Linked DNA regions of Homo sapiens. The protein of the gene in region 1 purifies or fractionates together with the protein of each later gene. This does not show direct contact. Each region holds a gene or a part of one and is shown in the gene's direction. Other genes may lie near its edges. The genes, in order: AIFM1, TOR1AIP1, CAND1 and ACAD10.

Region 1 (6,010 bases):
CTTCAGACTTTGTAAACAGTTTAATGACTATATATTCCATTAAGCGAATTTCACAGTTTACGGTTGCTCACTCGTTGGATTTTTAGGTTGCTTTGGGGGAGTCTAAATAGCCACAAAGATGAACAAAGGGTTAGAGAGCTCAAATGCCACATCCTTCATGAAGCTGGTCCAGTTCACCCCCGGCTGGAGGTTCTCGCCCTCTGCTTGAAATACTTGACTCCTTTAATCTGTACCTCTCATATGGCACACTACTGTTTACATTGCTCTGTAGTTGTGAGCAAGGCTGTATCTTTCTGTACTAGGTTGTATGCTCCTCATAGTCAAGGTCCATGTCAGTTTTGTCTCAGCAACCCGGACAACATAATACTTTTGTATATAATAAGTACTCCATAAATATTTGTCGAATGAATGAATACTGAGTGACAAAAAGAAATCTAAGAAAACATTTCTAGGTGAGAGGCAGTCACATCCAAAAACTGGTTTCTACATATAGAAAAGAATATTCTGCAAATCATGGTTATTAAATATCCTGTCTGTTAAGGAAAGAACAGGAAGTAGACATAAGTAAACAAAACTATAGAAGATTTAGGTTAGCTTTATGGAAGCAGAATAGATTTTTTTTTCTTTTTTTTTTTGAGGCGGTGTCTCGCTCTGTTTCCCAGTCTGGAGTTCAGTGGCACGATCTCAGCTCACTGCAACCTCCGCCTCCTGGGTTCAAGCCATTCTCCTGTCTCAGCCTCCCAAGTAGCTGGGATTACAGGCGCTTGCCACCACACACGCCTAATTTTTTGTATTTTTAGTAGAGATGGGGTTTCACCATATTGGCCAGGCTTGTCTCGAACTCCTTGTGATCCACCCACCTTGGTCTCCCAAAGTGCTGGGATTACGGGCATTTGCCACTGCACCTGGCCTGGAATAGATGTTTTAAAATGAGATCTCAGGCCAGGCGTGGTGACTCATGCCTGTAATCCCAGCACTTTGGAAGGCTGAGGCAGGCACATTGCTTGAGCCCAGGAGTTCAAAACCAGCCTGCGCAACATGGCAACACCCCATCTCTACCAAAAAAAAAAAAAAAATTTAGCCAGGCATGGTGGTGCATTCCTGTAGTCCCAGCTACTTGGGAGGCTGAGGCGGGAGGATCATCTGAGCCTGGAGGTCCAGGCTGTGGTGAGCCATGATCGCACCACTGCACTCCAGCCCAGGCAATAGAGTGAGACCCTGTCTAAAAGAAAAAAAAAAAATTTAAATGGGTTATCAGCTGTTTTTGTTAGTTTAAGTACAACTCTGGCCTGTAGATGGAAAACATGAATTAGTTACCATTACAAGTGTTCTTTGAGCCCCCAAAGTTTATATTTTGTCTTTAACTTGCTTTTTTTTTTTTTATCATGTGTTCATGTTATGTATTTGTTTCCACAGGCAGGAGATGCTGCATGCTTCTACGATATAAAGTTGGGAAGGAGGCGGGTAGAGCACCATGATCACGCTGTTGTGAGTGGAAGATTGGCTGGAGAAAATATGACTGGAGCTGCTAAGCCGTACTGGCATCAGTCAATGTTCTGGTAATAGTGGTGTGCCTTGGAGACCCAACTGATTACAACTCAGTATCTCTAGGACCATAACACAGAGTTATGGTTTGGTTTTATTATGAGCCAGTTAGCTTCATACAGAAGGGAAAAAAGTCCATCTTATGTCCACACATTCTACCCTCAGGTAGCCATCTGGCAGAAGTGTCCTGTTTAGTTTTTCACCAAACTGATCCTTTTGTAAAACATTAAAAGAGAAAAAAATTATTTTAAGTGTTCTGTCTGGCGTATGTTAGACTAGGTGAATGAATGGAGATGGCACCAGCACTTCCGGCAAAATAGGTCAGAGGCCGAGGTGGGCGGATCACGAGGCCAGGAGTTTGAGACCAGCCTGACCAACATGGTGAAACCCCGTCTCTACTAAAAATACAAAAATTAGCTGGACGTGGTGGTGCATGCCTGTAATCCCAGCTACTCGGTAGGCTGAGGCAGGAGAATTGCTTGGACCCAGGAGGTGGAGGTTGCAGTGAGCCGAGATCACACCACTGCACTCCGGCCTGGGTGACAGAGCGAGACTCCGTCTCAAAAAAAAAAAAAAAAAAAAAAGGAGTGTCAGAAAGCATTCCAGTCCTAAAAGATGAAGGCTGGTCTGGTATGGTTGCTCATGCCTCTAATCCCAGCACTTTGGGAGGCCAAGGCCGGGGGATTGCTTGAGCCCAGAAGTTCGAGACCAACCTGGACAACATAGCAAGAGCTCGTCTGAATTTTTTAAATAAAAAGTTTTTAAAAGTTAAAAAAAAGAAAAGTGGAGGCTAAGGGGAAATACTGTAGGTTAATGAAGCCATAAAACATCTCAAATTCTGAATTCCATAAATGTGGAACACTCTTTAAAGCTTCAAAAAGGGAATTTCAAGACAAAAGTAGTGAATAGCAAAAGTGGGAACCTCATCACTTTCCAAATGTGGCATGGGATAAAAGCACGAATAAATTCAAGAACGTTTCAATCACCGCATGGATATGTGGTCGTGTATAATGGCTTTTTAAGGAAAAGTCAAAGCTATTAGGGTTAATCTTACTTTCTCATGGTCATCCCTAGATGCTCTAGCAACAGCAGATCAGTTGGCATCTCTCGTGATCTGCATACTAAGTTCTTTGGTTGGCATAAGAGTGCGGTGTTGGTCGGGTGCGGTGGCTCACATCTGTAATCCCTGCACTTTGGGAGGCCAAGGCGGGCAGATTACTTGAGGTCAGGAGTTCAAGACCAGCCTGGCCAACATGGTAAAACCCCGTCTCTACTAAAAATACAAAAATTAGCCAGGGTGGTAGTGGGTGCCTGTAATCCCAGCTACTCAGGAGGCTGAGGCTGGAGAATCACTTGAACCCAGGAGGGAGAGGTTGCAATGAACTGAGTTCGCACCCATTGCACTCCAGCCTGGGCAACGAGTGAAACTCCGTCTCAAAAAAAAAAAAATGCAGTGTCATGGAGAATATGTGCTACCGTGTCATTCCTTACAGTCCCTTGACAGAACACCCTCTTCTCTCTTCTTAGGAGTGATTTGGGCCCCGATGTTGGCTATGAAGCTATTGGTCTTGTGGACAGTAGTTTGCCCACAGTTGGTGTTTTTGCAAAAGCAACTGCACAAGACAACCCCAAATCTGCCACAGAGCAGTCAGGTAAGAAAGTCCTAGCACTCCTCTTGGAGAGTGTTGAGAAGCAGTGGTCCAGATTCTCCTGAACAAGGGGTTTCTGTATTGGCCAGAGGGGCTTGTCAGTGAAAGCCTCTCTTCATGTTGTGCTTTAAAAGAAACCAAACCCCAAGTCCTCACTCTTTAGTGGTCTGAGATTTGGCAAAATCAGGTATCCTGGTCAAAGCATAGATTCAAATATTGTGGGTATCTGTCCTAGACAGTGGACAGTGGCTAGCTCAATGACACTGCTGTTTTGTGTGTCTCTGGGAAGACCTTTCTAAGGAAGAAAACAAGAAAACCTGAACTTTTTAGATTGCGTTTTTATTTTTCTTTCTTTCAGTTGTCATTTTTATTATTTTGCTTCAGGCGAATCTCAAGAACACGGCCTGATAGGCTTAGCTTAAGACTGGCTATCCTCCATGGGTCCTGCGCAGGGAGGAACTGGGCTGAGTAGTTATTTAGCTGCCTCCCATTCCATTTGGCAGATCTTAGTGCCAGGTTTTCTTTAGATGGGAGGCACCTCTCTTGGAATGGACTTCTCTCCCACACATGTCTCTTTCATTAACTCCGAGACCTTATTCCTTGACCTTAGCTCAAGTTATTTAACTTCTGCATCCTTTTGCCAGAGGTGTCTCAAGGGCAAGGTGCTGTTTAAGAAGGAGAAAGCAAGACATTATATGGATATGTAGGTCCTTTTCCTGTGTAATTCTAATGTATTCCATATTCCTTAATTCTGATCTCTCCTAGTAACCTAGTAAGTGGATTCATGTCACTGCTTTGTCGACTGGACAGTATTATTTGGAGGCTGGTGGTTCTCAGCAAGGTGCCCCCTTCCTATGCCACCCTTCCCTTCCCCTCTTTCTCTAGGAAGAAATGCCTCCACTATGGTTTTTCCAAATGGAAGTGCCTTCTGCTTTGTCTAAAGTACCTGTCTAATAGCACTGTCCAATAGAACTTTCTGCTGCGATGGAAATGTTCCATCTCTGCTCTGTCCAGTACGTTAGCCACCAGCCACATGTGGCTTTTGAGCTCATGAAACATGGTGAGTACAGATAAGGAACTGAATTTTACATCTTACTCAGTTTGAAATGATGTTCATTTACATGGCTGTGGCTAGTGGCTACTGTATTTGGACCATGCAGCTCTAGAATTATTTCTTAGAGGACAAGAACCAGCCTTCTGCAGTTTGAAGAAATCCAGATACCAGGAAATATTCATAGCATGAATTTAAAATGAGATAATAAGGGAGGGAAGTTTAGGGTCAGACTGACCCTGTGCCCAGGAGCTGGCAAGGAAGACCTTTCCTTGGCTTTGTCACTGGAGAGGGGCTGGTGAAGGCCAGGGTTTACTGAGGGGGCATAGAGAAATAAATCCTCTAGAAGTAGCTTGAAGCAGGCCTCGAAAGACTGTTGGCTTCTAGAATTTCCCAAGCTCATAATAACTGAAGTTTTGATTTTGCTTCCATGTTTATTTGTTTTGGGGGCTGGCCACAGGAACTGGTATCCGATCAGAGAGTGAGACAGAGTCCGAGGCCTCAGAAATTACTATTCCTCCCAGCACCCCGGCAGTTCCACAGGCTCCCGTCCAGGGGGAGGACTACGGCAAAGGTGTCATCTTCTACCTCAGGGACAAAGTGGTCGTGGGGATTGTGCTATGGAACATCTTTAACCGAATGCCAATAGCAAGGAAGGTAGGTGCCTGTCATAACTCTTAGAGGAAGATGGGAAGTACGGCTTAGAAACATTCCTGTAACTTCATCGGGTGCCCTGAGATGCATTGTCCCCCGGCCAGGTCAAATTGTGCCTGAGCAGAACAAAGGTATAGCCTTGGCTCAGGAACATTCTTTTTCACTTGGGACTTGGCTGGGTGACCTGGGAGTTGGCAGGCTGCTTGTTTGGGGTTAGTAGAGAACTGTTCCCACAACTCCCTCCCAGTGTGATATGGGGACTGCCCCAGGTAGCCCCATTGTGTGGGCATGGCCTGAACGCAATGGAGTAAGTTAGGGACCTATTGTTACTCTCTCTCCCTCAGATCATTAAGGACGGTGAGCAGCATGAAGATCTCAATGAAGTAGCCAAACTATTCAACATTCATGAAGACTGAAGCCCCACAGTGGAATTGGCAAACCCACTGCAGCCCCTGAGAGGAGGTCGAATGGGTAAAGGAGCATTTTTTTATTCAGCAGACTTTCTCTGTGTATGAGTGTGAATGATCAAGTCCTTTGTGAATATTTTCAACTATGTAGGTAAATTCTTAATGTTCACATAGTGAAATAAATTCTGATTCTTCTAAATTAAATTCTGTTCTCTTGTCAAGGGGGCAGGTGGGTGAAGGTGGAAAGCCACGCATATTAGAAAGCAAGCAAATTGCAGCACCGACCAAGCACAGGATTTTTCTCAGCCATGTATTCATGCCCTACTCCAGACGCAAAACTCCTTTCATTTCCGAACTTCCCTCACCCCTCCAGACCTCTTTGCACACACCTGCTGTGGCCTCGGCCCACAACACTTGACTCCCCTCCTCTCCTCTCAGGAAGTTCACTATCTCTGAAGACTTTCCCAGCCTTCCAAGCCTCATCCTTGTGTATGTGTCTCCCTGCTAGCCCATGACTTCCTGGAAGCAGAAGCCCTGATGTTAAGGCCTTGCTCATGGTTTTATCTCCAGAGCTTAGCACAGGGTCTGCTTCATAGTAAGTGCTTCATAGATCATTGTCGAATGAGTGAACAAATAAATGTATGGAATAGACTTTGTTTACCTGGAACAACTCCTGTCCCAGAACTGGATTGGGTCCTGCAGGG
Region 2 (7,030 bases), on another chromosome or scaffold:
TACCATAATATTTCTATGTTCAATGTTTTGCACATAGTAGATACTTAACAGATAGATATTCATGAATTTTTAAATTAAGCATTTCTAGAATGGCCCCTTTTTTTAAACAGCTAGCACATGTTTGTATTCAGAAAAAGTTGAAAATAAATAAATGTAAATCGATACTTGTATTTATCATCAAAGAGTAACTCATTTTCTCAGGGCAGATTTGAAAATTTACCTTGTTATAATTGTAATGTCATTTTTTAGTCATCCCATTGTGTCATTTTACAGTTATCCTTAAATACCACCTCAAAACCTGAAGTAGCATGTTTTACTTCATAGCTACTTTGCAATGTCCATAAATCTGCATAGATAGTACATACCATTTCTTTATGGTATGGTATGTGGTATATGATATGGACTGCCTGGATTTGTATCTCAGCCCAACTACTTTTAGATATATAATTTTGGAAAAATTACCAATTTTGGTTCCCCCCCCCCCTTTTTTTTTTTTGAGACAGAGTCTCGCTCTGTCGCCCAGGCAGGAGTGCAGTGGTGTGATCTCAGCTCACTGCAAGCTCCGCCTCCCAGGTTCACGCCCTTCTTCTGCCTCAGCCTCCCGAGTAGCTGGGACTACAGGCGCCCACCACCACGCCTGGCTAATTTTTTATATATTTAGTAGAGACGGGGTTTCACCGTGTTAGCCAGGATGGTCTCGATCTCCTGACCTCATGATCCACCTGCCTTGGCCTCCCAAAGTGCTAGGATTACAGGCATGAGCCACCGCATCCAGCTGATTTTCCCTTATTTATAAAATACGAACAGTAATAGCATCTACCACATAAGAATTAAGCAAAATTGGCTGGGCATGGTGGCTCATGCCTGTAATCCCAGCACTTTGGGAGGGCGAGGCAGGCAGAGCATTTGAGGTCAGGAATTTGAGACCAGCCTGGCCAACATGGTGAAACCCTGGTCAGGAGTTTGAGACCAGCCTGGCCAACATGGGGAAACCCTGTCTCTACTAAAAAGACAAAAAATTTGGTCAGGCATGGTGGTGCACACCTGTAATCCCAAGTACTTGGGAAGGTGAGGCAGGAGAATATCTTGAACCTGGGAAGCGGAGGTTGCAGTGAGCTGAGATTGTGCCACTGCATTCCAGCCTGGGTGACAGAGTCAGACCCTGTCTCAAAAAAAAAAAAAAAAAAAGAATTAAACAAAATTATACTTGATATATATGACTATATGTAGTTTTTATTTTGATGGTACTGATCCTAAACTAACTCCTTATTGTTGCCCAATTCCTAAACATTTTGAAGTTTAGAAATGAGGGGGAAAGAAATACACACACACTTTATATATATATATATATATATATATGTATATATATGTATATATATAGTATATGTATGTTTTTTATATATATATACTTTATATATTTATATGCTTGGAATTGATGAGAGAATGTTTTTTGTCTGTTGTTTGTTTTTAGTATCCACAGTAAACAAGCAAAATGTCTGTGCAACATCTTTTTTGTTGTTATTTTCAAGTATTCTATGACCTTATCCCTGTTTTCTGTTTCAGGTCAAAACTTCACAGCTCATGATAAGCAACCTTCAGTGCTAAGTAAGTAGTTGGTTGTCTGCTCTTTTTTCAGCCAATCAATTCTTTTCTCTTTTTTTTTTTTTTTTTTTTTGAGACGATGTCTTGCTCTGTCGCCCAGGCTGGAGTGCAATCTGGGCTCATTGCAAGCTCCACCTCCTGGGTTCACGCGATTCTCCTGCCTCCGCCTCCCAAGTAGCTGGGACTACAGGCGCCCGCCACCACGCCCGGCTAATTTTTTGTATTTTTAGTAGAGACGGTGTTTCACTGTGTTAGCCAGGATGGTCTTGATCTCCTGACCTCATGATCCACCTGCCTCGGCCTCCCAAAGTGCTGGAATTACAGGTGTGAGCCACCGCACCCAGCCTCAGTCAATCAATTCTAACCTTGCCTTATTCTCCCAACAAAAGTTGTAATAAGATTTTAAGTCATTTTACCCCTCTTTACCTTTTTAATTCACCACGGATTGGTACTACCTATAATAATTACTCTGTGATATGGAAATGTGTTCAGGGCTATTTTACCACAAGTAATTTGTATTATGTGATAATATATTTATTTGCTACCTGCTTTGCTGTAGGAAGTGGTTCATCCTCACTGATACGATCCTTTGAAATTATCTTTTACTTATAAAACTATTGCTTTTATTGTTTTCTTCCCCTACTTTATTTTGTCTTTCTGATAGATTAATTTTATAACACTGGAATATGGTATAAACTTTCAAAGTATGGGAAATTATCTTTTGATATATGTATTTGCTTCAGGCTCAGGATATCAAAAAACTCCCCAGGAATGGGCCCCACAAACTGCAAGAATAAGGACCAGGATGCAAAGTAAGTAGATAAATCTCTGTTATTGAAATAATCTTGTGTATTTGCTATGTTTTTCTTGACAAAAATATTTAGTTCTTCAGATAAACATTTAGGTTGTTTGTGATTTCACTAATAAAGTACAGCTATGATTACTAGTTTAGTAATTTCTTGGACTGGCAGCACATGGGCTGGGTGTAGAATGTAAATAGTGGCGTGAGAAAACCAGAGATTGGCCAGGTGCGGTGGCTCACGCCTGTAATCCCAGCACTTTGGGAGGCCGAGGTGGGTGGATCACGAGGTCAGGAGATCGAGACCATCCTGGCTAACACGGTGAAACCTCGTCTCTACTAAAAATATTTAAAAAAGAAAAATTAGCTGGGCGTGGCGGCGGGAGGCTACTCGGGAGGCTGAAGCAGGAGAATGGTGTGAACCCAGGAGGCGGAGCTTGCAGTGAGCCAAGATTGCACCACTGCACTCCAGCCTGGGCGACAGAGCGAGACTCCATCTGAAAAAAAGAAAAAAAAAGAGAAAACCAGAGATTGATGGATTTTAACAAGCTGTCAGTTATAGCAGCAATACAGTCTGTATACAATAATGAAATTCTACTCTTTTGACAATACTTATTTTTTGCTTTTAGCAGATTTTGGAACAGCTTTGTATACTCATAATTTTACATAATAAAGGCTGAAATGCACAAGTTATATTTTCATGTTTAGGGTTTTTTTTCTGTTTTTTGTTTTGTTTTGTTTTGTTTTGTTTTGTTTTGTTTTGTTTTTGAGATGGAGTCTTGCTGTGTTGCCCAGGCTGGAGTACAGTGGTGCAACCTCAGTTCACTGCAACCTCTGCCTCCCGGGTTCAAGCAATTCTCCTGCCTCAGCCTCCCAAGTAGCCAGGACTACAGGCGCGTACCACCACACCCAGCTAATTTTTGTATTGTTACACGCCTGGCTAATTTTTATATTTTTAGTAGAGACAGGGTTTCACCATATTGGTCAGGCTGGTCTTGAACTCCTGACCTCATGATCTGCCTGCCTTGGCCTCCCTGAATGCTGGGATTACAGGCTTGAGCCACTGCGCCCAGCCTTTCTGGGTTTTTGGGGGTGTTTTGTTTTGTTTTGGGTTTTTTTTGAGATGAAGTCTCCCTCTGTCGCCCAGGTTGGAGTGCAGTGGCACAATCTCAGCTCACTGCAGCCTCCGCCTCCCACATTCAGGTCATTCTTGTGCCTTAGCCTCCTAAGTAGCTGGGACTTGCATGCATGCGCCACCATGCCCAGCTAATATTTGTACTTTTAGTAGAGACGGGGTTTCGCCATGTTGGCCAGGTTGGTCTTGAACTGCTGACCTCAAGTGATCCGCCTGCTTCAGCCTCCCAAAGTGTTGGGATTACAGGCATGAGCCACCACACCCAGCCTCATGTTTAGGTTTTGGATGGATTAAATGTCACAGAATTTAAGGAATACTATAAATTGATGTGATAAAACCATCGTACTTTGAACTCACTTTCTATAATTTCTATGGAAATGCGTCCACGTTAAATCTCGACCATATTTTTTTAAAGTCCATGCATATTCTCTGCCTTAAGTGACCTTTAACCTCCCTACTTTACTCATCTAACCACAATAGGTCTTGAGGTCATCAGGTATTCTCTTACTTTTATTTAGGTAATGTAAAAATCCACATCTTATATCTCTTGCTCATGGGATGATTAACTGTAATTGGACCAAATGACATGCGTGGCTCTGCTTTTCCATCAGTAAAGTAGGAGTGGTCATAATTCATTTTTTCTCAGCAGTGACGTTTTTAGCCCACATGTAAGTGAGTTCTTAAGCAGTCTAGAACCGAAATAACTTTTTGCCCTTGTCTTACTGTTGGTTGTCATTTCTTATTGCTGTGATTATGTGCCTGCTATTAGAAAACCATTTCCTCTTATAATTTGCTCTTCCTGACCTATTATAGTTAGGAAACCAAACATTAATTATTCAGCTTATTAGAATTATGTTTATAACCAGGATCAAACATTAAAATTAAATTTGAAGACCCAAGAGATACTCTTGGATGTAAAAATGCATGAGTTTTAGTGTATATAATGTGAAAAGCTCAGAGGCATCTTGTGTCATTTCTTAGTTCTTAACTGTACATTCTGAGTAATTAATATCAGATAAATGACTTCCAGATAAGTGAAGTTAGTACATACTTATCAGAAAATCTTTGCATAATTTTTTCCTCTAATAAGACACTGCAATAGAGAAGGAAACATAATTATATTGAACATCTAATAGAAATGCAGAAATAGATCTTTTTAGTTGCTAAATTGATAGCTAATTTTTAGTATTTTATCTGTTTGCATTTCTACTTTGTCTTAAGTTACTATGTTTATTATGGCTTACAGAATTATACATTGGTTGCTAACCACCTACCATATATAGATAACCACATTGAGCTTTCAGAGTTATGTAACAGTAACACACCAGAAGTGTGCATGTAATAGGATCTTTTAGACTTTCAACCACATGAGGACTTTAAGATAGAACGATGAGCAAGAAGAAAATATTTTCAATGGAAGTGGAAGACTACAGTGATTTTTCAAACACTGTTATATAATAGATTCCTCTTCAAGAATATTAAAAAAATGTTTTCCTAGCATTCCACATTTTATCTCTCATTCTTTAACTATATATTTCTGCCCGCTTTGGTGAGGAAAAAAAAGTCATTTTTAGAGCTGAGTGTTCAAGAACCTTAGGCTATAGATTCTACCCCATGGAACATTGTCACCCGACGTTAGCAACAGTTTCCTGTAGACAGGTCCCAGTTCAGGCTTCTGCCTGCATCCAAACCTTTTAGGAAAGATGGAACCACTGTCTTTACTTTTTCCTGTTTGCCAGGTGATAAAACAATGATTATAGAGAAGAATATATGTGCATGGAGAGGTCAGAGAACTAATATAAATGTTTTGGAACCTGTCTCAGAAATTTAGATAGAGAAAAGAAGACAATTTGGAGTTAAAGCTCTTGAGCTCCAGTCCTAGCTCTTCCACTTACTAATTGAGTAATCTTGGTAAAATCACTTAACCTTTGTGAACCTCAATTTTCTTGCCTTTAGAGACAGTAGTGCCTATAACTAGATTATTGTAATGAGCTTATATGTGTAAACACAATTTTTTAAAGTCTAAAATCTCATAATTATCAGGGCTTATTTATTGTTAATGTTTTCTGTAGAATCAATAGCAACTATGGAGGATTTGTGCCCTCTACTCTTGATGGTTGTAGAGTGATTGATTATCACCATACTCTTTAGACTAGAAAAGCTTGAGTTTTTTCTTTTTCTTTTTTTCTTTTTTTTTTTCTTTTTTCTTTTTTTTCTTTTTTTTTTCTTTTTTCTTTTTTCTTTTTTTTGAAACGGTCTTGCTCTGTTGCCTAGGCTGGAGTGCAGTGGCGTGATCTCAGCTCACTGCAACCTCTGCCTCCTGGGTTCAAGCGATTCTCATTCATGCCTCAGCTTCCCAAGTAGCTGGTGGTGCACCAATACACCCAGCTAATTTTTGTATTTTAGTAGAGACAGGGTTTCACCATGTTGGCCAGGCTGGTCTCAAACTCCTGACCTCAGGTGATCCACCCACCTCGACCTCCCAAAGTGTTGGGATTACAGGCTTGAGCCACTGCGCCCAGCTGAGTTTTTTCTTTTAAAAAGATGTTTTTTAGAATTGTTGTTAGCATCTCTAGTAATGTTGATAAAAAGGATAGCAGTTATACTTTGGACAATGTCCTGCCTTGGCAGTATATACCCTGCTGTGTATGTGTTTGTGTTATATGAATTATATAAATATTATATATGGTACATAATTATTATTTAGCTGTCCTTCATCATTAACATCATAGAATTGCACTTCACAGCATTTTTGTATATATTATCTCATTTGATCTTTGCAACCATGGAGTGAAGTATTCAAAATAAACATTATCTGATGGATTTGGGTTTCATGTGGTTAGGTATTTTTATTGTTATTTTAGTTGTAACTTCGATAACCTAACTTAGAAGCTTCTAAATAATGAAATATCCTAAGCTAAACTAGTAATTGAAAAACAGTATTCCTCTTACAGTTGCTGTCATTTTGTCTTACTACATCATTATGGAGTTTTTTGTCATATGATCAAAAATAAGGCTATTTCTGAATCTTAGCAGGGCTAATATTATTCCTCCAGTTATTCCAGTGTTTCTCAAATGAAAGTTGTTGATATAACGCTAAGAAGATCCACCAGGAAGTTCATTTATATATACAAAAGTTATAAAACTCCAGGCAAGTGATAGACGGCAATACTGGTAATATAGGTCATACAAATGAGATAACTCAGCCTCTCCACCTTCTGAAGCCTGTCCTTCCATTTCCTCTCTTAGATTTTAAAACCTGCTGGTATGCTAAGAAAGATGGAAGGGAAAGGGAAGGGTTAGGATCATTTTTAATTTCTTTTCTTGTTTTTAATTTTTTTTTTTTTTTTTAGAGATGGGGTCTCACAATGTTGCCCAGGCTGGCCTTAAACTCCTGTGCTCAAGCTGTCCTGTCACCTCAGCCTCTTGATTTGTCGGAATTACAGGCATGAACCACTGTGCCCGGCTTAATTTATTTTCTAAATAGATTTAGA
Region 3 (7,030 bases), on another chromosome or scaffold:
ACCCACATCCTATCTTTAATCCAGATCTCACTTGTGAATCCAGATTCATATGCAACTGCTTAATTAATATTGCTGCTTGGATATCTAAAATATCTTTTCCCTGCCCCTTCCCCATCTCCCACCTAACCTGTTCTTCTTTAGCCTTTTCCATCTCAGAATGGTACCTCTATTCTTCTTAGTTGATCAGGCCAAAAACCTTGCAGTCATACCTGATTCCTTTTTCACACATCCCTCAGCTAGTCTTCCACCTCAGAACTATCTTTCATTTTATTGTTTTTATTTTGTTTATCACACTTAGTAACTTTCTGACATACTGTAATTGATGGTCTCCTACCTATTAGAATATAAGTTTCATGAAGGCTAGATGTTTTAATCTCTTGATTGACTGCTTTATTCCAGTGCCTAGGACAGTACTTGACACACAGGCAATCAATAAATGGGTTGTATTAATGAAGGGAAACTTTAGCTTATATTTTAATATGAATATCTTTTGAAGAAAGCAGTAGCAATGTATATTCCAGGTTTTGAATTTTGTTTTTTTGTGTGCTGTATAACAAACTAGGTACTTCACCTGCTTTATCACTTAGTATGAATTATACCCATTAAATGACTTTTCTACCATGGTGTTTTTGTGATTTATAAAATCAACGTAATTTTAGTGAATAAGGACATTTGTTAATTTTTTATAATCTTGTTTTTAATAAAGCTTATATTTCTGGGAGGCAATTGCCATAGTGTATTGACATGGAAAAAATTTTATGTGCTCTTAACTTGATAGTGTATTTTGGCAGTATCTTTTAACTTTATTTGAATAGATATTGGTAAATAAGCAAACGTCTTGCATTTAGCAGTATTTGGTTGTATTTTCCTGTAATGTGCTAAGGTGAATTTTAAGCTTTTGAGTTGGAAAATTTTATTATTTTGTTGTATACTGTAGAATCTTCTAAGGCCTAGCTGGCTACATTTGACTGTCAAACTAAGCTAATTGGAATAAAAGCCAGTAAAAAGTTACTACTCCGCTCTATTATTTCAAGGCTATGTATAGTCTTATCTAAGAATAAAGAAATTATTGTGAGATAATTTTAGACTATCATGATAACTGCTAATATTTCTGCCACCTTTCTGACTTCATATTACCCAACTAATTAAACCTGATGGTGTTAGAAAGAAAGATTTTCTGGAGATTTCACACACATGTTATCCATCAAGTATAGATAAGTGAGATACAATTCTTAGTGCTTTTGCTTTGAATGTTTAAGGTTTAGCATTAGGGGAAAAAATGGTCCTCTGTTAAGTGTGCAGCATTTTCTTGGTATAATTAAGCAAAAATGGTTTTGTTAAAGTACATTAAGACAAAATTGTGAAAGGTTTAGAATATACATATTTGTTCCTCACAGCTTATCAACAAGTTGAGTGAAAAGCCTTGTAGTCACAAAGCTGATGTCAACCTTCTTTTTATTCCCAGCAAATTAGTTCTACAGTGTTTTGGGATTGGTAACCATTCTTTTTATCACCTACTCTATTACCACAAATCCATTTCATGGTTTGTCTTATAAAGTCCCTGATTGTTTGCTTGATTTTTCCTATGCTGTTAAGTAAGTTCTTTGAATTTTGTTTCAAAGGCTGGGAAATTTATGACTATAAATATTTATATTCTAAAGAAGTTGAATGTGTTAATTGATGATTTTAAAGGGTTAAAATAAGCAGCAGTTCATTACAAAGTAAATGAGAAAATGTTTAACTAATTAAAAATACCATTATGTTTGTTTTTTAAGTTTAATTTATGTGCAGATTTACAGAAATAACAAGCTCTTTGTTCAAGTTCTAGTTCTGTTGAAACCTACCTGTTGCTGTATATGTTACCGGAAAGTTAGATTAACTGATTTGGTTAAGAATATCAATTGATTTTCTGTTTTAAATGATATACTTCTCTTGTCATTAATAGCCTGTTTACATTAAAACTTACCCTTAGGGAGTGATGATGAATACAGTGATGATGATGACATGAGTTGGAAAGTGAGACGTGCAGCTGCGAAGTGCTTGGATGCTGTAGTTAGCACAAGGCATGAAATGCTTCCAGAATTCTACAAGACCGTCTCTCCTGCACTAATATCCAGATTTAAAGAGCGTGAAGAGAATGTAAAGGCAGATGTTTTTCACGCATACCTTTCTCTTTTGAAGCAAACTCGTCCTGTACAAAGTTGGCTATGTGACCCTGATGCAATGGAGCAGGGAGAAACACCTTTAACAATGCTTCAGAGTCAGGTGGGTTTTAAAGTAAAGTTTAGAAAATCATGATAGTAAATGCAATGCTTTTAAAATTGTCTTTATATGGAAAGGTGAGTTCCAGAATATCTATAGAGAAGCAGAAAGTTCTAGGATATGTTTATATAGTTAATGCATGTTCATATTATGTTAGTTGTAAACTATTCTAATTGAATTATTCTTGGCTTTACATGATAAACAATATTTAAATAATTTTAAGATTCAGTAAAGTAGTCTTTATCTTTGATGTTAATAGAGAAGTCTTAGAGCTGTGGAGTCATACTACTTGCGATCACATAACTGACTTCATTTCTAATTTAGGTGTGTGATCTTGGGCAAGTTATTTAGTCATTTTATTAAACCTCACTTTTCTTATTTGTAATAAGAACGTACTTAGAAATATCTACCTGTGGTTGTGAGAGCTGGGTGATCTGTGTAGAGCATTCAGTGTAGTGCCTACTACATATATGCTTGATATATGCCAGTACTTACTAATAAAATACACATTTTTTCACTTGAGGGCATTTGTTTTCTAAGATCCTAAACATTAGAGCTATTATATGCTCCCATTTATTGAATATTTATTACATACCAGGCATTCTCCTATCTTATATGTAATCTCTACAGCAGCCCTATGGGATGCACAAATAGTAGGTCAATTTTTATAGATTACAAAACAGATATTGCCAGGGATTAAACCAGTGGAGAGGACGGGACACACATACTGTATCTATCTTGTTTTTAAGTAGTACAAATAAATACATTTTTGTGGTGAACTTACTCATAAAGGTGAATGTTGAAGATTAATTGTAGAAGGAAATGAGATAAAGTGTATGGAGGACATATGCAAGTGAGTGAGTATATAGAAGTCAGGTATTGCTCAGTAGAGTTGCCAGGAATTCTGACAATGCTATGGAAAGTCAGACATTTTTTTTGTTTTGTCTAGTTCTTAGATCATTGTGTAATTAGGGTATGTGTCCATGTAGTTTGGTTGTTGGGATTTTTCTTGGCTTTTTGTTTTTACTCTGTACTTGCTTTGCTGTTGAGGTATTCTAGAAGCTCCGTTGATAGCTTTGCATCCGTAAGATTTGTTAGTAGAGACCCTGTTTGTTTTACTGACTAGCAAAACATTAGGAAGTTTAGAGCAGATGTCTTTTAATCATACCCCTGCTGCTTGTAGCTACATTTGAAGTGAGGTTGATTCCTTCTAACAGCAAATGGAAAGTAAGAAAAGGACCTGTTCGATGGTTGCTTTTCCATAATTTGTCTTGTTTCCTTTGATTTTTATCTGTGCTGTTGTCATTCAAAATACCATTTATAAATTAACCTCCTAAATTTTTTATTGAAAATATGATTTGATTAATTTCTTTCTTTCTCTTTTTTTTTTTTTTTTGAGATGGAGTCTTGCTCTGTTGCCAGGCTGGAGCGCAGTGGTGCTATCTCGGCTCACTGCAACCTCCGCCTCCTGGGTTCAAGCGATTCTCCTGTCTCAGCCTCCCGAGTAGCTGGGAGTACAGGCATGCACCACCACGCCCAGCTAATTTTTGTATTTTTAATAGAGACAGGGTTTCACCATGTTGGCCAGAATGGTCTCGATTTCTTGACCTCGTGATCTGCCTGCCTCAGCCTCCCAAAGTGCTGGGATTACAGGCGTGAGCCACTGTGCCCAGCCTATTAATTTCTTTTTAGTCATGTATGTTTCACAATTAAAAATTAAGTAGGGAAGACTATTTTGTTGCTCTCTGGAAAGCTAAATGATAGCTTTTCTGTAATTTCTTATCAGTATCAAGCAAATATAGTTACAAGAGAACATATATAATACATGCAACAAACTTGATCTTGTGTTAGCAATAGCAATAGATAGCTGAATTAGGAATTTAACAAAAAAAGATAAACTCTTCCCTTTATCCTCATTCTCCATAATTCATGTTAAGTGTACTGAGGAAATACCAACAGCTGAACCAGCTAATGACTATATGATAATTGCAGGTTCCCAACATTGTTAAAGCTCTTCACAAACAGATGAAAGAAAAAAGTGTGAAGACCCGACAGTGTTGTTTTAACATGTTAACTGAGCTGGTAAATGTATTACCTGGGGCCCTAACTCAACACATTCCTGTACTTGTACCAGGTATGAAAGAAACATAAATCTCTTTTGGGACTTATTGTAGCCTTTTTGTTAGGACTTAGATAAGCTTAAATAATTGTTTCCTTTTAAAGGAATATATGTGACAACTTAATATGCACATAGAGCTAACTTTTTAATCTAACAATCTTGAATACCTGAAGTTAGAAATTTGTAAGTAAAAGGTTAAAAGTCTCACCCTAAAATATTTGGCTGTAATATTTATTGTAGATGGTGAAAATTTCTACTTATAGAAATAATATAATGAAGTGGGAACATTAGCAGTACTATAGGGGTTGATTTTTAATTTTTCTTTCTTAAAAGTCTGCACAGCAATGATTGGATTTTTTGTTGGCTTTTTAGGAATCATTTTCTCACTGAATGATAAATCAAGCTCATCGAATTTGAAGATCGATGCTTTGTCATGTCTATACGTAATCCTCTGTAACCATTCTCCTCAAGTCTTCCATCCTCACGTTCAGGCTTTGGTTCCTCCAGTGGTGGCTTGTGTTGGAGACCCATTTTACAAAATTACATCTGAAGCACTTCTTGTTACTCAACAGCTTGTCAAAGTAATTCGTCCTTTAGATCAGCCTTCCTCGTTTGATGCAACTCCTTATATCAAAGATCTATTTACCTGTACCATTAAGAGATTAAAAGCAGCTGACATTGATCAGGAAGTCAAGGAAAGGGCTATTTCCTGTATGGGACAAATTATTTGCAACCTTGGAGACAATTTGGGTTCTGACTTGCCTAATACACTTCAGATTTTCTTGGAGAGACTAAAGAATGAAATTACCAGGTTAACTACAGTAAAGGCATTGACACTGATTGCTGGGTCACCTTTGAAGATAGATTTGAGGCCTGTTCTGGGAGAAGGGGTTCCTATCCTTGCTTCATTTCTTAGAAAAAACCAGAGAGCTTTGAAACTGGGTACTCTTTCTGCCCTTGATATTCTAATAAAAAACTATAGTGACAGCTTGACAGCTGCCATGATTGATGCAGTTCTAGATGAGCTCCCACCTCTTATCAGCGAAAGTGATATGCATGTTTCACAAATGGCCATCAGTTTTCTTACCACTTTGGCAAAAGTATATCCCTCCTCCCTTTCAAAGATAAGTGGATCCATTCTCAATGAACTTATTGGACTTGTGAGATCACCCTTATTGCAGGGGGGAGCTCTTAGTGCCATGCTAGACTTTTTCCAAGCTCTGGTTGTCACTGGAACAAATAATTTAGGATACATGGATTTGTTGCGCATGCTGACTGGTCCAGTTTACTCTCAGAGCACAGCTCTTACTCATAAGCAGTCTTATTATTCCATTGCCAAATGTGTAGCTGCCCTTACTCGAGCATGCCCTAAAGAGGGACCAGCTGTAGTAGGTCAGTTTATTCAAGATGTCAAGAACTCAAGGTCTACAGATTCCATTCGTCTCTTAGCTCTACTTTCTCTTGGAGAAGTTGGGCATCATATTGACTTAAGTGGACAGTTGGAACTAAAATCTGTAATACTAGAAGCTTTCTCATCTCCTAGTGAAGAAGTCAAATCAGCTGCATCCTATGCATTAGGCAGCATTAGTGTGGGCAACCTTCCTGAATATCTGCCGTTTGTCCTGCAAGAAATAACTAGTCAACCCAAAAGGCAGTATCTTTTACTTCATTCCTTGAAGGAAATTATTAGCTCTGCATCAGTGGTGGGCCTTAAACCATATGTTGAAAACATCTGGGCCTTATTACTAAAGCACTGTGAGTGTGCAGAGGAAGGAACCAGAAATGTTGTTGCTGAATGTCTAGGAAAACTCACTCTAATTGATCCAGAAACTCTCCTTCCACGGCTTAAGGGGTACTTGATATCAGGTAGGTATCTAGATTTTCTTACTTAAAAAGTTTTTTATTGATAGTTGGTTGCCTTAAAAGACACCTAATAAAGAAGTTAAGCCATGTCTATATTTTCTTAAACCTAAAAGCTAAGTATGTGATGAAGAAAAACTGTCTTTCGTAGTATGGAGTGATATTCAAATGACATTTTGTTGTTTTAAAGGATAGTGTGGTAATTAGATAATGGTTAAATCTGTTCTAATTCCTCATGATAACTACATTTTAATGTTACTATATTGTGTTAAAATGTGGAAAAGATGTATCTAATGAATTAACATAATCTGAAGAGCTTGTTGATACTAATTACAATAAGTATAATTGGTGACAGTACTTTTTTCAAATGGAAGATTCTGGAAGAGTTTTCAGATTTACCAGTGTCATCCCCATTAGAACAAGTAAAAGGTAGTAATATTAATAGCAGTAATAGCCATTCATTCTTAGACATTGCTTTCTGTTTTAGTAAAAAATTTGAAGATTTTTAAGCGGTTTTGGATTTAGCTAGTTCTATTTTGTGAGGGCGAGATCGTCCACTGCTGCTTCAAGTCCCTCCTTCCCAGAAGGAATTGTTTCTTTGAAATCTAATGGGATTATATTTTGTGCTCATAAGTAAGTTAATTTTGCTCCTTTGGATTCATGTGTGCAATAAGAAATACCCTTCTTGGCCAAGGAGAATTCTAAGGCATTGAAGACACTGGTGTTATTTGGAGTGGTTTAAAAATGATGTCCGTGAGTTTTAGTGGACTACATACCAATAGACTTGCA
Region 4 (7,030 bases), on another chromosome or scaffold:
CAGCCATGGTGAGGTGGTAAGACCCCAATACCATGGCATACCCTCCCCGACCCCACCGGGCTCACCTGAACCATCCCAGGCAGTGAAGATACAGGAGCTCCGAGTTGAATGATCTTTGCTTCCATCGTCTCAGAAAGAGCCAGCTCTTCATGACTCAGTTTCCATCTCTTGCTCTTGCTGTGCCTGTGTCACAGGCAGATGGCTCAGGTGTGACTGCACAGCCCAGGCAGTGGAATGCTTGGCCTTAGAAAGCCAGGGCAGGTTAGGCCTATCTGATGGGTATTTGAATTATGTAAATTTGAAACAGTGCTGTATCAGCTAATAAATCTCTCTCTAGAGAACCCGTAATATCACAGCTAGAGGGCCAGATCCACTGTGAGCTGAGTTTCTGTGTTGTCTCCCAGTGCTGTCACTTCAGCTGATAAACAGAAACACCCGCTGTTCCTTATCACGTGAACCTTGGATTGTGTTAGTTTTGAAATTACTTGAGATCTTCAGGAGCATAATGCAATCATCATCTACTTTTCTTTTTTTCTCTTTTTTTTTGAGACGGAGTCTTGCTCTGTGCAACTTCCGCCTCCCAGGTTCAAGCGATTCTCCTGCCTCAGCCTCCCGAGTAACTGGGATTATAGGCACGTGCCACCATGCCCAGCTAATTTTTGTATTTTTAATGGAGATGGAGTTTCACCATGTTGTTCAGGCTGGTCTTGAACTCCTGACTTTGTGATCCGCCCGCCTCGGCCTCCCAAAGTGCTGGGATTACAGGCGTGAGCCACCATCTCTCTCTTTTTTTTTTTTTTTTTTTTTTTTGAGACAGGGTCTCGCTTTGTCACCCAGGGTGGAATGCAGTGGTGTGGTCATAGCTCACTGCAGTCTCAACCTCCTGGGCTCATGTGATCCTCCCACTTCAGCCTCCTGTGTAGCTGGGACCACAGGCACAGCCACCATGCCCAGCTCCTCATATCATTTTTTTGGGCACACGTGCATGTTTGGTTGTCTGCCTTGTTTCCTCCAATCCCTTTCATTGTTTTCCACGGTTCAAAATAAAATGAAATCTTCCACTGTGGTTTCCTGACTTATTTTCCCCATGATAGGAGAAAGCCAAAGCTGAAGGACTTTGGAACCTTTTCCTACCCTTAGAGGCTGATCCCGAGAAAAAATACGGAGCAGGACTGACCAATGTGGAATATGCACATCTGTGTGAGCTCATGGGCACGTCCCTGTATGCCCCCGAGGTACCTTCTTTAAAGTTTTCCTCAGTGTGTGGGAACATCCTGATCTTCATAAGAACTCAATCCTAAACAGATAAACCAGATTCAGAAGCACTGGCATGAACTTGAACTTTTTTTTTTTTTTGAGATGGAGTCTCGCTCTGTCACCCAGGCTGGAGTGTAGTGGCGAAATCTTGGCGCACTGCAACCCCTGCCTCCTGGGTTCAAGTGGTTCTCCTGCCTCAGCTTCCCAAGTAGCTGGGACTACAGGCATGTGCCACCACACCTGGCTAATTTTTGTATTTTTAGTAGATACAGGGTTTTACCATGTTGGCCAGACTGGTCTCAAACTCCTGACCTCAGGTGATCCACCTACCCTGGCCCCACAAAGTGCTGGGATTACAGGCGTGAGCCACCATGCCCATCCAATTTGAAGCTTGAAATATTAATGTGAGAAGGCCAGGCATGGTGGCTCACACCTGTAATCCCGGTACTTTTGGAGGCCGAAGTGTGGGGGATCACTTGAGGCCAGGAGTTCGACACCAGCGTGTGCAACATAGAACTCTGTATGTACAAAAAAATAAAAAATTAATCGGGTGTGATGGTGCATACCTGTAGTCTCAGCTGCTTGGGAAGCTGAGGCATGGGAGGATGGCTTGAGCTGAGGAAGTCGAGGCTGCAGTGAGCCATGATCGTGCCACGATACTCCAGCCTGGGTGACAGAGCTTGACTCTGTTTTTTTTAGAAGAGGACATGACAGTCATGGTCACGCTCCTTTTCCTTCTCAGGTATGTAACTGCTCTGCGCCTGACACGGGCAACATGGAGCTGCTGGTGAGGTATGGCACCGAAGCGCAGAAGGCTCGCTGGCTGATTCCTCTGCTGGAGGGGAAAGCCCGCTCCTGTTTTGCTATGACCGAGCCCCAGGTACGTCGCCTGGGCTGCCACCCACTTGCCTGGCCCTGTTGTTGTCGGCCCCACAGGGAACACGGGCTGTCTGCTGGCGTCTCTGACTGGAATATGCTCCCCACTCAGGTTGCCTCTTCAGATGCCACCAACATTGAGGCTTCCATCAGAGAGGAGGACAGCTTCTATGTCATAAACGGTCACAAATGGTGGATCACAGGTATTTGGCCTAAAATGCACTTTCCAAATGCACATCAGGGAGTCTGTGCTGTTAGGCGCGTCTCTCAATGCCTGGGAGGAGCCTCTGCTTTTTCAAGTTGACACAAAGGAGATTCTGTCACTTAGCGCCCCCAGCAGAGGCAGCTGGGAGAATAGGAGGGTAATCCGTGGAGCACACTGTTCTCAGAGGTGGCACTTCACAGGGCAGGGACGTCCCCCGGTGCCCACACATGGACGGATGCCTCCCTGCACATGTGACCCCAGGAATCTCTCCACTTCCTGCTGTTCATTCTGCTTTGGGCAGCTCCCCTTCCTTGGTGGCTTCCTGGCTCCTCGATCAGGTGTGTTACATCCTAAGGGCTAATGACAATCCTGACTTTTAGGGATTGTCCAGTGTTACTTTTGCAGGGCCCCTACAAGTAGCCGTGGAGCTTACCTCCCGGAGCCCATACCTCCCTGGACATTAAGAATGAGCATCCCCATTTTGCAAAGGAGGAAACCGCACTCAGACTTAGGTCCCTTGCCTGGGGTATGAGCCCCCAGCCAGCAAGTAGAGAACCCAGAGTCAAAGGTTCACCTGATTCCAAGGCCCGGGCCCAGAGCCGTTATGTGTGCACCACCTGTGGGAGCCGAGCCAGCTGGCAGGGATCAAGTAGCGGTTTTCATCCTCTTGTCTCTAAATTATATTTTCTACTCTATGTGATGCTTTTAAAAACTTGCTCTTATGATGTTGGATTCATTCCTCACTGGGACAAAACCCAATTTGCTCTTATTTCTGGTCAGCAGTCTGCAGATGCTCATCTGATTACATGGAGCCTTAAAGAGCTCTGTCTGCTTCCTTACTGTGCCTTTCTTGGGCCAGGACCACGTGTGTAGAGATTTGATGGCCCTGGTGTCAGATGATGGGGTCTGTCTCTCTCCTTTCCTGGCAGGCATCCTGGATCCTCGTTGCCAACTCTGTGTGTTTATGGGAAAAACAGACCCACATGCACCAAGACACCGGCAGCAGTCTGTGCTCTTGGTTCCCATGGATACCCCAGGGATAAAAATCATCCGGCCTCTGACGGTGTATGGACTGGAAGATGCACCAGGTGAGACCTCCAGGGGCGGGTCACCCCTGGGTGTGGGTCTGGTCCCCAGGAAACACCACTGAGGGGCCCCTGCTCTTGTTCAGGACTTGCCACATCCCACGTCTGAGGGTATGATGACATTTGGAGTCACATGCTCCTGCATTTCATTTCCATACATGAATATCAACCATGCAGGCGGATTTCAGACAGGCATTTATGGATTTTTTTCCCTCTTCTAAACTTAGAAAGTAATCAGGAGTCTGTGACACAGGAAGCCATACAGGGCAGACGCAGGAAGTGGACCCCAAACCTACTCTTCCAGGCCCCAGTGTGAACAGCTGACCTCTAGGCCACAGCCCTGGTTTGGTCCGCTCCCAGTTTGGTTCTCTGCTAATAGTGTTCACATTTTTACTTTCAGTGTTTTCATAGGATCACTACATTGTCACAAACCACTAGGAGCTTCAGCTTAAGGTGGCATTATTATGTTTTTATAAAAGGAATCACAGAATAGTCATTTGCCATTATAAATCAGTGATTCATTTTCTGTGTTTAACAGGCTGTTTCCTGCCGTCCTTTTCCCTTTAACCATGTCCCAGTAAGAAGGCTAAATAAAGGGCAGGGACATTGCCAGCAGATAACCCAGACTGAGGTGAGGAATAAACACATCCAAGGAAAATGACTATGGCTATTGCTCACAGTGATCGTTTGGGTCTTTCAGGTGGCCATGGTGAAGTCCGATTTGAGCACGTGCGTGTGCCCAAAGAGAACATGGTCCTGGGCCCTGGCCGAGGCTTTGAGATCGCCCAGGGCAGACTGGGCCCCGGCAGGATCCATCACTGCATGAGGCTGATCGGGTTCTCAGAGAGGGCCCTGGCACTCATGAAGGCCCGCGTGAGTGCTTTCCCCCGCACCCAGCACTGACTCAGAACCACCACCTTCTGCTTTGCTGTCGGACTTCAATTCCTACCTGTTTTCTGAGTGCAGTCCTAGCAGGTGAAGCAAGGTGATGTCCTTGCCAAGAAGTTGCATTCCTGTCTGCTTTGCATCTGCTACTTTGCTGCAGTTTGGATTCAGAGCAGAATGGACCCCACTCTGTCGAGGTGACCTGAAGGGAAACGCCAGGCTCTGTAGCAGCAGAGGCAAGGTTCCAAGGTGTAAAGGTCATGCTGCTAGCACATTATTAAAAATCAGTCTGGGTGCAATGGCTCACAGCTATAATCCCAGTACTTTGGGAGGTCTAGGTAGGAGGGTTGCTTGAAGCCAAGCATTTGAGACCAGCCTAGGCGAAAAAGAGAGACTCAGTCTCTACAAAAAAAAAAAAAATTTTTTTTTTTTTTTTGAGATGGAGTCTTGCTCTGTCACCAGGCTGGAGTTCAGTGGTGTGATCTCGGCTCACTGCAACCTCCACCTCCCGGGTTCAAGCAATTCTCCTGCCTTAGCCTCCCAAGTAGTTGGGACTACAGGCACGTGCCACCACGCCCAGCTAATTTTTGTATTTTTAGTAGAGACAGGGTTTCACCATGTTGGCCAGGAAGGTCTCGATCCCTTGACCTCGTGATCTGCCCGCCTCGGGCTCCCAAAATGCTGGGATTACAGGTGTGAGCCACCGTGCCCGGCAAAAAAAAGAAAAAGTTTTTTTTGTTTTTTTTTTTTTTGAGACGGAATCTCACTCTGTTGCCTAGGCTGGAGTGCAGTGGCGCGATCTTGGCTCACTGCAACCTCTGCCTACTGGGTTCACACCATTCTCTTGCCTCAGCCTCCCGAGTAGCTGGGACTACAGGCACCCGCCACCATGCCTGGCTAATTTTTTGTATTTTTAGTAGAGATGGGGTTTCACCATGTTAGCCAGGATGGTTTCGATCTCACCGTGTTAGCCAGGATGGTCTCGATCTCCTGACCTCATGATCCGCCCACCTCAGCCTCCCAATGTGCTGGGATTACCGGCGTGAGCCACCGTGCCTGGCCAAAAAGAAAAAGTTTTAAGTGCCAGGCATGGTAGCATGTGTCTCTAGTCCCAGCTACTCAGGAGGCTGAGGCAGAAGGATCGCTTGAGCCCAGGAGTTTAGGGCTGCAGTGAGCAGTGATCACACCACTGCACTCCAGCCTGGGTGACAGAGTGAGACCCTGTCTCTTTAAAAATAAATAAATAAATAAAAATCAGACACCAGGGAGATCCCATGTTGCTTGTTTTTGTCCCTAGGCTTCCATCATCTGGCCTGTACCACCCTCCTCCACAGCACATCCAGAAAACTTTATTCGGCCATAATCCTACCACCCCCAAAGTTTGGAAACCTAGGTTAAAAGACAGCTGCTTCCAGGACAGGAATTCAAATTGGTGATTATCAATTTCAGAAAGGTGACGCAAACCCTGAGACCAAAACCAGTGTCTCACAAGAACTGCTATTGAAAGAACAGAGGCAGTCTGAATTTTTTATTACCGAGCAAACCTGTGATTTACACCCTTTTGAGTTAAGACTGACCAGTTATTTTTTCTTTCTAAGTAAAACGCTCCTGTCTATGGACTCAGGTATGGTGCTTCAGCCCCACATGGAATTAAATTCAGCCTTCTGGCAGAATAATTGGACTGAATGAGTCAGACAGAAGTCTCCAGAAAGTGCATAGCATGAACATGGCACCTCCACTGAAGACTTGGTTGGAGTAATTAGGAATCTACAAAAGATTTGCTACAAGGAGGTTCACCACAGTGCTTATTGAAATAGCAAAATTCTGAACAACCTATAAGGCTAACAATGACTGTTGGCCAAATAAAACACAAGATGGCATACAGTGAGACTTTAAATGATGCTGTGGAAATCTATTCCTTAACATGGAGAAATTGCTCACTATATACACTTAAATTTAAAAAAAAAGACTGTGGCCAGGTGTGGTGACACTCCCAGCACTCTGAGAGGCCGAGGCAGGCAGATTGCTTGAGCCCAGGAATTTGAAACTAGCCTGGGCAATACGGCAAAACCTCATCTCTATAAAAAATAAGGCTGGGCGCGGTGGCTAACGCCTGTAATCTCAGCACTTTGGGAGGCTGAGGTGGGCGGATCACTTCAGGTTAGGAGTTTAAGACCAGCCTCGCCAACATGGTGATACCCCGTCTCTACTAAAAATACAGAAGTTAGCTGGGCATGGTGGCACATGCCTGTAATCCCAGCTACTTGGGAGGCTGAGGCAGGAGGATCACTTGAATCCAGGAGGCGGAGGTTGCACTGAGCTGAGATTGCACCACTGCACTCTAGCCGGAGTGACAAAGCAAGACTCCATCTCAAAAAAAAAAATTAAAATTAAAAAATTAAAAATAGTAGCCAGGTGGGGCTGGGTGTGGTGGCTCATACCTGTAATTCCAGCACTTTGGGAGGCCGAGGTGGGCAGATCACCTGAGGTCGGGAGTTCGAGTCCAGCCTGACCAACATAGAGAAACCCTGTCTCTACTAAAAATATAAAATTAGTTGGACGTGGTGGCGCATGCCTGTAATCCCAGCTACTTGGGAGGCTGAGGCAGGAGAATCGCCTGAACCCGGGAGGTGGAGGTTGCGGTGAGCCGAGATCGCACCATTGCACTCCAGCCTGGGCAACAAGAGCGATACTCTGTCTCAAAAAAAAAAAAAAAAAGTAG

Evidence for each region.
Region 2: the proteins of AIFM1 (region 1) and TOR1AIP1 purify together in Homo sapiens (affinity purification with mass spectrometry; 3 studies listed by BioGRID and IntAct, with this or other methods). This does not show direct contact.
Region 3: the proteins of AIFM1 (region 1) and CAND1 purify together in Homo sapiens (affinity purification with mass spectrometry; 2 studies listed by BioGRID and IntAct, with this or other methods). This does not show direct contact.
Region 4: the proteins of AIFM1 (region 1) and ACAD10 purify together in Homo sapiens (affinity purification with mass spectrometry; 2 studies listed by BioGRID and IntAct, with this or other methods). This does not show direct contact.

The regions. Positions count from the first base shown.
Region 1 is NC_000023.11:130,128,862-130,134,871, reverse strand, and holds the end of AIFM1 (apoptosis-inducing factor 1, mitochondrial isoform AIF precursor), read left to right. Parts: intron 1-1,416; coding exon 1,417-1,559; intron 1,560-3,072; coding exon 3,073-3,197; intron 3,198-4,705; coding exon 4,706-4,902; intron 4,903-5,243; coding exon 5,244-5,315; 3' UTR 5,316-5,510; downstream 5,511-6,010. UniProt on the Homo sapiens protein: Functions both as NADH oxidoreductase and as regulator of apoptosis.
Region 2 is NC_000001.11:179,906,260-179,913,289, forward strand, and holds part of TOR1AIP1 (torsin-1A-interacting protein 1), read left to right. Parts: intron 1-1,563; coding exon 1,564-1,605; intron 1,606-2,345; coding exon 2,346-2,414; intron 2,415-7,030. UniProt on the Homo sapiens protein: Required for nuclear membrane integrity. Induces TOR1A and TOR1B ATPase activity and is required for their location on the nuclear membrane. Binds to A- and B-type lamins. Possible role in membrane attachment and assembly of the nuclear lamina.
Region 3 is NC_000012.12:67,300,351-67,307,380, forward strand, and holds part of CAND1 (cullin-associated NEDD8-dissociated protein 1), read left to right. Parts: intron 1-1,972; coding exon 1,973-2,265; intron 2,266-4,254; coding exon 4,255-4,396; intron 4,397-4,753; coding exon 4,754-6,247; intron 6,248-7,030. UniProt on the Homo sapiens protein: Key assembly factor of SCF (SKP1-CUL1-F-box protein) E3 ubiquitin ligase complexes that promotes the exchange of the substrate-recognition F-box subunit in SCF complexes, thereby playing a key role in the cellular repertoire of SCF complexes.
Region 4 is NC_000012.12:111,745,050-111,752,079, forward strand, and holds part of ACAD10 (acyl-CoA dehydrogenase family member 10), read left to right. Parts: intron 1-1,094; coding exon 1,095-1,235; intron 1,236-1,999; coding exon 2,000-2,137; intron 2,138-2,245; coding exon 2,246-2,336; intron 2,337-3,267; coding exon 3,268-3,426; intron 3,427-4,123; coding exon 4,124-4,296; intron 4,297-7,030.